Regions from separate parts of the Homo sapiens genome. Here region 1 is linked to region 2. Evidence: fine-mapped expression QTL. Tissue or cell type: whole blood. Region 2 holds a variant in brackets; the other region holds the start of a gene. All regions are shown on one strand. Distances are between the middles of the regions.

The links. PIP is the estimated chance that this variant, and not a neighbour inherited with it, causes the effect.
Region 1: CRTC3 starts here. The variant in region 2 is fine-mapped to the expression of CRTC3 in whole blood (INTERVAL, PIP 0.97).

The regions. Positions count from the first base shown.
Region 1 is chr15:90,526,802-90,531,950 of GRCh38, forward strand. It overlaps CRTC3 (CREB regulated transcription coactivator 3), which reads left to right and starts at 3,122. Exons shown (of 15, transcript NM_022769.5): 1 at 3,122-3,402. The coding sequence starts at 3,271. RefSeq lists silencers at 2,576-2,625, 2,726-3,475, 3,496-3,675 and an enhancer at 4,066-4,225.
Region 2 is chr15:90,592,232-90,597,380 of GRCh38, forward strand. It overlaps CRTC3 (CREB regulated transcription coactivator 3), which reads left to right. Exons shown (of 15, transcript NM_022769.5): 3 at 1,405-1,524. It overlaps LOC124903555 (a long non-coding RNA gene), which reads right to left and starts at 3,747. Exons shown (of 2, transcript XR_007064758.1): 1 at 3,660-3,747; 2 at 1,129-1,631. RefSeq lists enhancers at 1,833-2,333, 3,729-3,798. The variant A/G (reference allele first, on the strand shown) is at 2,368.

The sequences.
Region 1 (5,149 bases), 65 kb before region 2:
GTGGTGGAGGTGTTTGATTTTTTTTTTTTTTTTTTGAGACGGAGTCTCGCTTCGTCGCCCAGGCTGGAGTGCAGTCGGGTGATCTTGGCTCACAGCAACCTCTGCTCCTGGGTTCAAGCAATTCTCCTGTCTCAGCCTCCTGAGTAGCTGGGACTATAGGCGCCTGCCACCACGCCCTGCTAATTTTTATATTTTTAGTAGAGACCGGGTTTCACCTTGTTGGTCAGACTGGTCTCAAACTCCTGACCTCAGGTGATCCACCCACACCTCGGCCTCCCAAAGTGCTGGGATTACAGGTGTGAGCCACTGAGCCTGGCCTTTTTTTTTTTTTTTTTTTTTTTTTTTGAGACGGAGTCTCCCTCTGTGGCCCAGGCTGGAGTGCAGTGGTGTGATCTTGGCTGACTGCAACCTCCCCCTCCTGGATTTAAGCAATTCTCCTGCCTCAGCCTCCTGAGTAGCTGGGACTACAGGCACATGCCACCACACCTGGCTAATTTTTGTATTTTTAGTAGAGACAGGGTTTCACCATATTGGTCAGGGTGGTCTCAAACTCCTGACCTCAGGCGATCTGCCCGCCTTGGCCTCCCAAAATGCTGGGATTACAGGCGTGAGCCACTGCACCTGGCCGATGCTTGATATTTCTGCAGTGGCTTCTCATCATGATGATACCTGTATGGTTCAAGAGCTGGTAAGTGTAGAGACAGCTTTCCAATTTAGTAGATGGCTTCCTGATTTCAAAAGAGGCAGTGTCTCCTTTGGTGGCTCAGTATTGCAGCATAGCTCTCAAAGTCATTCCTCAAAGTTCAACCTGGAGTCGGTTGCTTCAGCCCTCCAAACAAGTCTGGAAGTCATTTTATACCCTGTAATATATTCTTTTGTACTTAAACCATCTAGAATGGTTCTGTTCTCTGAAACTTGACCCAAACAATGTAACAGAAAAGCAGAAATAAAATGTAAAGAAAAATGCTAGGCGCGGTGGCTCACGCCTGCAATCCCAGCATTTTGGGAAGCCGAGACAGGTGGATCACCTGTGATCAGCAGTTTGAGACCAGCCTGACCAACATGGTGAAACCTCGTCTCTACAAAAAATACAAAAAATTAGCCTGCGTGGTGGCGTGTACCTGTAATCCCAGCTACTCAGGAGGCTGAGGCAGGAGAATAGCTTGAACCCAGGAGGCAGAGATTGCAGTGAGCCGAGATTGCACCACTGCACTCCAGCCTGGGCGACAGAGCGCGACTCTGTCTTAAAAAAAAAAAAAAAAACTAGCCGGGCATGGTGGCGCAAGCCTGTAATCCCAGTTACTCGGGAGGCTGAGGCACAAGAATCACTTGAACTCAAGAGGCAGAGTTTGCAGTGAGCTGAGATCAGGCCACTGCACTCCAGCCTGGGTAACAGAGCAAGACTCCGTCTCAAAAACAAACCAACAACAAAAAAAAAGCATGGTAAATAACACAAAATACAACAGAAAAAAAAATCCAATTATAATTAATAAAAATAGCTAAATTCTAGCTAACAGAGATATATTTTCAGAATACATTTTCTAAAAAGTCCAGTTATAGGCTATGTCTGAGAGACAGGTGAAAAACATAATGGAATATTATCATATAAATGAATTGACACAAATATATCTCGAAAACATAATGGAGAATGAAAAAAGATGCAAAATGATTATTCAGTATGGTGTCATTTTTGTAAAGTTTAAAAACAAAATTAGGTATTCCATATAGCATTGCTGGATCTCTACATCATATGTAATAAAAGTATAAAAACACAAACTGGAATGATATGTACCAACTTGAGCACGGTGACTATCTGTGGGGCGGAAGAAGAAATGAGAGTGGGGCCGTCGTTATGACTAATTTTGTATGTCTTTAATAAATCCCAAGTACATGCAGCAAAATGTATTGATGTCTGTTTAATCTTGATAGTGGGGGGCGTGGGTAGTATTAATATTATTTTCCGTACTCTTCCGTAGGCCTCTAATATTTCCCTCTTTACAGAACACTGACACACGCTCAGGGCTCCCCGGGACATCTTTGTGCACATCAACATTTATGCTGAGAGTAGCTTCTGGACTCCAAAGAGGAAACTCCCCGGGCACTGTGGCCCACGCCTGTTATCCCAGCACTTTGGGAGGCTGAGGTGGGCAGATCGCTTGAGCCCAGGCGTTCGAGACCAGCCTGGGCAAAATAGCGAGACCCACCCCCGCCCCCCATTGCTACAAAAACATTTACAAACTAGCCGGGCGTGGTGACCCCCGCCTGTGGTCCCAGCTGGTCGGGAGGCTGAGGTGGGAGGATCTTTTGAGCCCGGGAGGTCAAGGCCGCGGTGAGTCGAGATCGCACCACTACACTCCAGACCGGGCGACAGAGAAAGACATCCATTCACTCCCCCAAAAGAAGGGGAAATTCGCTGAGGCTGAGCGCTGGTTTCCCAAGGTGGGGCTGGCACCTGCTGAAGCTGCCACAGGAGTGGAGAGGCCGTAGGGAGACTTGGAAAGAACCTGGAAAGGGGGCCGGGGCTATGGAGCCAAGGCTGCAGCAGGGCTGGATGGTGTTTGTAGTTTGTGCAGAATAGGAGGCAGTTTTTAAAGCCGAGATACAGCTCTGGTTGACTGGAGCGGGGAGGGGTGGGTGTGAGAGGTCAGGAAACCAGCGGCTGGAGGCCGGGGGCCTGGAGCGGCAGGGCTGGCGGGCAGACGTTAGGCCCCAGGCAAAATGGGCGCACCCCCTGCGGGGGCCCGAGGTGACCTGCTCGAGGTCCGGTCGCCCAGGTTCCACCTGGAGAAGAAAATCTTCGTAATTTGGCTGGGGGAGGGGGGATGCGGGCACAGGCTGTGTTCTCCACGTCGCGTAGACGCAGAGGCCATCCCTGGGTCGGAGAGTCTCCGTGGAGTGGCACCCCAGCGTTCCCCGTACGCCGGGGCCACTTTGTCGGGCTGACGGGGGTCCCTCCAGGTGGCCGCCGGCGGCGGGTCCCGAGCCAGACCGGGAAGCGGGGAGCAGCCCTCAGCCCGCGAGCGTGGGGCCGGGGCAGACTGGAGGCCGGGCGGGCCCCGCCGAGGGTGGGGCGGGGCCGGGCGCACGGGGGCGGACCTCGGCGCGCTCCCGGCCGCTCGCTGGCTCCGGGGCCGCGGCGGCTCCTCTGCCGGGTCGCGCCGGACGACTGGCTTCGGGCGGCGGCCCCGGCGGCCTGTGGACGGACGGGTGGGCCGAGGTACAGGCCCCACGGCCGCCGTCTCCCGCTTCTGCCCGCGCAGAGTCCGCGCCATGGCCGCCTCGCCGGGCTCGGGCAGCGCCAACCCGCGGAAGTTCAGTGAGAAGATCGCGCTGCACACGCAGAGACAGGCCGAGGAGACGCGGGCCTTCGAGCAGCTCATGACCGACCTCACCCTGTCGCGGGTGAGGGCCCGGGCCGGCGCGGGCGGGGGCGGCCACGGCCGCGGGCGGGACCCGCGCGGCGGGTGAGAGGTTGCGGGGCCAAGGCGATGGCGGGGCCGGGCGGGGGCCGCGCCCGGGAACCGGCGGCTGGGAGGGGGACCGGAGCGGCCGCGGCCTCGGCGTTTCCCCGCCTGGCGACACCCGCTAGCCGTTCGCGATCCCGGGCTGAGGTGGGAGGGTCGCCCGGCCCCGTGTGCGGGAAGATGGGCAGGGGTGAAGCCCGTGGAGGCGGGCGGCCGTGCGAGGGCGGCCTGAGGGGGAGGAGGACGAGGAGCCCCGAGAGGAAATCGCAAACAGCTCGGAGGCCGGCCGGGTGGCGCGGCGCGGCTTCTGGTCGCTCCGAACATCCCCCACCATCGAGCCCTGCTGTTCTGCCGGCGTGGAAGGCCGCGGGCACCCCAGGGTCCCACGCGCTCGTGGGGGGAGCTCTGTGCACAAGTCCATCCAGGGCCCGGCCCTGGGGTGGCTCGGGTTGTTGGAACCACGACGGGATTCCGTGTCGAGTGTGAGGCTCTGCTCCTTTTACTCCTTGGAGGTGCTTTATCGGGTCCAGTTTACTTTGTTCGGCCCGGGATATTTAGTGAGAACTGACAAGCGTCGCTGGTGACTGGAGAGGGACCTGGAGGAATGAGTAAGGCGCGAGCCGGGACAAACACCTGGAGAGGTTAGGTAACCGCTGAGTGAGGCAGTGGAGGATGGAGAGCCAACCGGAGTGTCCGCGCAGGGTTGCAGAGAAGGGGGGTCAGCAGGAGTGGGGCTGGCCTTGAGGATCCTGAATGCTGACCTTGGAGGACCATCGGGAGGATGGGGGAGGATCTGCAGATTCTGGGGGACTGAGGCGGGGGAGACAGTTTGAAGGAGAGCTGAGAGCAGAGTTGCAAACCAGCTGAGTTGCAGACACATTATTTTTTGGCCAGCGCAGTGTTTGGGAAAAATTATTGAATCTGTTGCCAGAATTTTTAAATTGGAAGACTTCCACACAAAATCCAAATTTCCGTATTATTTATTTATTATTATTTATATATGTTAAAAATTGGGAGACCTGGTAACACTAATTCTGAATTCCTACATGACAGCTACCGACCTGCTGGAGCTGGGTGATGATGAAAGGGAGCTGAGCTGAGCTCCCTTTCAAATGGAGTAAGAACTCTAGTTTGCCACCGTCCACTCTCTGTCACAGTCCCCCAAGGGGAGATTAGGTGACAGTTGCCATTTATACTCATGATGGTGTTTTCTTTCAGTGAAGTTAAGGAAAAAGTGAAATATTTCCTGTACTTACATTTCTGTTCACATTGAGAAAAAATATATATATAGAGAGAAAGAAGCTGAAGATTTCAAGAAAATGTTTTCTTATACCCTATCAGCTTCACTCATTTTTTACCTGCCTGGCATCCACTGGCATTTACATCTGTGACCTTGGTTAGATTCAGAGATGAACTCGATAAGCTCAGAGCACGTTGAAAAGAATGGGTGGGTGAAAGCTGAGGATTAGTGTTGGGGCCTGTGTTGTTATGTGTTTTTAAATACATACTGTACATTGTTTATGTACAAATACATGCACTGTATATGTCTGTATACCTATGGCGGATCCAATCTTTCACCCAATTCATGAATCTTCTTTAAAATATCCCTGACAGGTGAGGCCATGAGTAATGTACAGACTCTCTTTTAAAAGCAAAAATTTTTCACAGATCCTCACTGTTTACTT
Region 2 (5,149 bases):
ACGTAAAACTCTGTTTTAAATGAATAGTATGTGAGGTGATGGATATGTTAATAACTTGATTTCATCATTTTGCTATGTATACATATATCAAAACATCATGTTGTACAGTGTAAATATATACAATTTTTCTTTGTCAGTAACACCTTAATGCTGGAGGGGATGGGAGAAGAAAATCTGTTTTCTATATTTCACAAGCACATCTATTGCACAATGTATACACATTGCCTCATTATGTGAGATTTATTGGCCCAGCCTAGGATTTGGCTTTTGACAACCAAAAAGGTTGCCCTTTGTGATACCAGTCTCAAAAATGTTAAGAACGTACCCCAAGCATCTCTTTAAAAAGGATTTTGGATTTATTGACCATGAATTTATCTACAATCTGTTTCTGCTTTCATTTGTATCATTTAGGGACTGATGATTTGTATGTTTTCCACTTGTATTTACATAGCATTCCTTTTTTCCTCTTTAACTCAGGGGTTACACACTCTGAATGTCTAAAATGATGAGTCAGTGAAATGGTTTGTGTGTAAGGATTCATAGTAAGAGAGTGGGTGTCCCATCTACAGGGAGCAGCCATGCTCAACTTGAGCCTGAGATGAGTGCGGCTCATTGTGGCCAAGATATTTTGATTTATGGGTGGGTGCGGTGGCTCACATGCCTGTAATCCCAGCACTTTGGGAGGCTGAGGTGGGCTGATCACCTGAGGTCAGGAGTTTGAGACCAGCCTGGCCAACATGGTGCAACCCCGTCTCTACTAAAAATACAAAAATTAGCTGGGCGTGGTGGCGCACATCTGTAATCCCAGCTACTTGGGAGGCTGAGGCAGGAGAATCACTTGAACCTGGGAGGCGGAGGTTGCAGTGAGCTGAGATCACGCCATTGCACTCCAGCCTGGGCAACAGAGCAAGACTCCATCTCAAAAAACAAACAAACAAAAAAAATTCTGACTTTTCCCTAGAATCCTCAAGTCTGAATTTTCAAACATTATGAATTCAATCAAAAATTTTAAAAGACACTGTGCAGAACAAATAGGTGCCTCGTGGCTTGCCAGTTTCTTTCTTTAATATACCTCTTTTACATTTCAAAGTGTCCTTTCTAGTTTTCTGGGATTTAGTATATGAGTTCACCGTCTTCTGATTCTCCTCCCCCAATTGCATGACAACTTTTATTATTCTTTCAGCTTTCCTCTTAACACACTACAGATTATTTGTCATTATTTTATGGTTATTATAAAGAAATAGTTCCATATACTACTTTATTTACCTTGACCCAAGGCCCACTAATGTATAATAAGTAAAACTGTAAAATCGGTCCTTTCATCTCCTGTTGTTATCAGTTGTTCTTGAGGGTGAGTGTCAATTTCATGGTTGGAGGCCAACTCTTCTTCCCTTCTCTCTGCAGCCGTCATTTCACCAAGCTGATAATGTTCGGGGAACCCGCCATCACGGGCTGGTGGAGAGGCCATCCAGGAACCGCTTCCACCCCCTCCACCGAAGGTCTGGGGACAAGCCAGGGCGACAAATATCCTTTTTTACTCTTCAAAGGGAGTGTGCATTCTGAAATGTTTGAAAAGTTTTCAGGATTTATCTTCCCTGCAATTCTCCTTTGGCCTCAGAATCTTCATTTATCTGATGAAAGGAGGCAATACAAATAAATGAGTTGGAAACTAGAAACATCTCTGCAGTCAACATTTGGAAACATCATTGTAGGTGTTTATGAAAGCATCAATAAAGTTCAGTTTAATGAAATAACAACAAAAACAACCTGTAATTCGGTCCCATTGCAGGGTGTTCTGAGCATTTTCTCCAGAAATTGGCCACGTTAGAGTTAAACCTGACTTTGAATCAGGTTAGAGAGCCTTAGTCTCTTTAGCAAAAATGGACATAGAGATATGTGATTTATTTGTACTTCTTTTGATCTGCTGACCTGCTTTTGGAACTTACAGACAAAATTTCATATTATTTTCTATTTGTGATGTTTCAAACTCAGTAAGTGATAACTAAAATAAACCTAGAATATAGGAAAATCTCATGCAGTGATGTACAGTCACACCAAACTCTGCTGTTAAGTAGAAATAAAGGAAAGGAAATGGTGAATTCACCTGACAGTTTCATTTAATCAGTCCTGTTTACAGGGCGGCAGTGGTGGGTGCAGCTGTGTGACCAGCATTGTGCCGAAGGCTTTGGGGAACAGAACTGAGCTGGATTTTTTGGGAGAGGACACAGAAGTGTGCCAGGAGGGCCCGTGCTCTCACTTCATTCTTCTCAGTACTCGGGCGCAGGGGTGGAGGAAGGAGAAGAAAGGCGGGGTGGGTCTCGCTGCGGAGAGCTGAATTCCTGGCAGTGATGGTAGAGTTGGCTTCAC[A/G]AGCCTAGAAACCAGGAAGTGGGGGCAGGGCACTCATGTTTACTGAGCACCTACCCATGCCAGGCGCTGTGCTGGGTAATTTATGTGTCACTTAGTCCTCAAAAACTCACTGAGTCGTTAATTTTTTTAACCCTCATTTTCTGATGAGGAAACTGAGTGTGTGGTGAAGTAACCCAGGATTCAGACCAGGCCCCGCTGATGGCCCAGCCTGTGCTCTCCCCTCCCTATGCCACCTGCGACCATTCGCAGTGATGAGGACCTTGTACAAGGGAGCCAGGAGTTGTGGGGGCACTCTAGGGAAACCCCAACTTTTCTTGCCTTCAAGCTTCTTGCAGTTTTTAGTCTATTTGGAGGCAAGGATAATGACCCCAGGGAATGTTTTTCTCTCCCCTTTCTCCCGCCCCCAGGAACACACCACATTTGGTCCACAGAAGGACTGACTTCTGATTTTGTATATTATGTGGCTGTTATCAAGGAAAGTAAAGATGATAAATGATCTTGAGAATCTATTCTGGAATGTGTGATAACTTTGACATTGAATGAAAAAGGCAAAAGGAAATGGAGGCAATTCATCAGCAAATTTGTACATGTCAGGATGGAGTGGTACATCAAACCGTTGTCCAAATTGCCAAGAATATTCAGGCAAAAGACTTGGAGTGTTTCTTTGATTGATTTAACAATGTATTTTTTTTGGCTGGGCATGGTGGCTCACGCCTGTAATCCCAGCACTTTGGGAGGCCGAGGTGGGCAGATCACGAGGTCAGGAGATTGAGACCATCCTGGCTAACGTGGTGAAACCCCGTCTCTACTAAAATTACAAAAAATTAGCCAGGCTCGGTGGTGGGCACCTATAGTCCCAGGCTGAGGCAGGAGAATGGTGTGAACCCGGGAGGTGGAGCTTGCGGTGAACCGAGATCGCGCCACTGCACTCCAGCCTGGGCAACAGAGCGAGACTCCGTCTCAAAAAAAAAAAAAAAAAACCAATGTATATTTTTTCAGTTCTCAGTTCCCTCTTTTTCCTGTCAGTGCTCTCATTTCTATATATTAGATTAAACATTATGCTATATATACGTGTGTGTATGTATATGTGGCTATCTCAGATACTTTTGAAGTACGGTCTAAATGTATAAGCATGCATATAGTTTTACTAACCAAAATAGAGAAGGGAATTGAAGAAAAAAGAGGAGAATGTTTATTCACTTATAAAAATTATTTGTTAAGTATGTGCTAGTGGTCAGACACCGTTTTAGACATTTTAATTCACTGTAACAGTAAACAGCATGGTCCCTGACCTCAAGTTGCCCAGGGTTCAGTGGGAGAGGCTACTCAGCAAACAAGCAGCCACGGCAGGTATGGCGTCTGCAGGGAGGCAGCTCAGGGGCTGTGGGAGCACGTCGGAGGTGCAGCTTGAACTAGTCTGGGGAAACGAAGAAGGCATCCTGGGGGAACATCTGAGGCTTGAAGGATAAGAAGTAAGAGGATAAAGTGTTCATTCAGCAGATCTTTACAGAGCCCCGTCTCTGTGCCAGGCACTGTTCTAAGCACTGGGGACCCAGTGATGAATAAGGGAGGCATACTTCCTGCTTTCTTGAGTTCACAGTCCTGTGGGAGATGACAGCAAACAGGCAATAAGAAAGGAAAATGGTTTTAGATGGTAATGAGTGAGATTTAAGAGAGTAAAGCAGTTGGGAGGTATGTTCCAGGCAGAGGGAAGAGAATGTGGTGCAAAGTCCTACCCAGAAGGGGAGATGACTTCTTGTGTTCAGGGGACCCTATCTCTTATGATAGGGTATAATCTGGCACTGTATGGATCAACTTGAGAGCATAAGCAAAGCTAGTCAACTCCTAAAGGAAGGAGAAACAAAAACCAAGTTAATATGCAGAGAAATTAAAGTTATTAGACAGTATGAGTCAGATTCACTGATCATGAGCCATGTCTCTGTGGTCTCCTAAGCTCCTAAATTGGGTTCCTGGGACTGGACATCGGTTGATGCAAAGAAAGTTCTTTAGCCCAGTCTCTTTTGAGGAATCAAGGGTCCGTGAAATGGGATGATTTTATTTTGGTGTTAATCTATTCCACTTGGAGGAGGAGGGCTGTGATTCCGTCTTTGCTTTCACGACCTGCATTCTGTTGGTTGTGAAATAATCTGCTTAAAATTGTGGCCTTGAACATTTGTCTATGACTTTTTAAATGAAGTTTCTTCATTTGAAAGTATAAAACACTAGTTTGAATCTTTGTTAGAACAAAAGGAAAAAATCAGAATTATTATAGCTGTTTCTTGGCTTGGGTGTTATTTAAGACACACTGGCTTAGACAAGGGTTTTAAGGGTTCACTCCTATGATAGGGTGATCTCAAATAAAACGAACATTGTTTAACAAATACTCTGGCCTCCTCTCAGAGTGGGCAGCCACAGCACGCAGAGCTCTGCCACAGGAGATTCCTTCTGGAGTGGGCTTTGCCCTTGGCATGGGTGGCCACACAAGACCAAGGCACAGCTGCAGCTGGGCCCTGGCCTAGCCCCACACAGGCGGAGGAGAGGCACTGCCAGGGCTTGCTCCTGGCTGGGGGCCTGGGCTCGGGCACTTGGAAGAGAAGCTCTTCTGCCCTTCTGCAGATGTGCAGTCTGTAGCAGCCCTTCTTACTCTCACTCATCAAGGTTGGCAGACGTGCCGTGTCCCAAACACCATTGCTAAACTTCTGAACTATTAACATAAATTTATAGCAAATAAAATATTTTCTCAGCCTTGTGGATGACACGCTCAGAAGGAAACACGAAATGC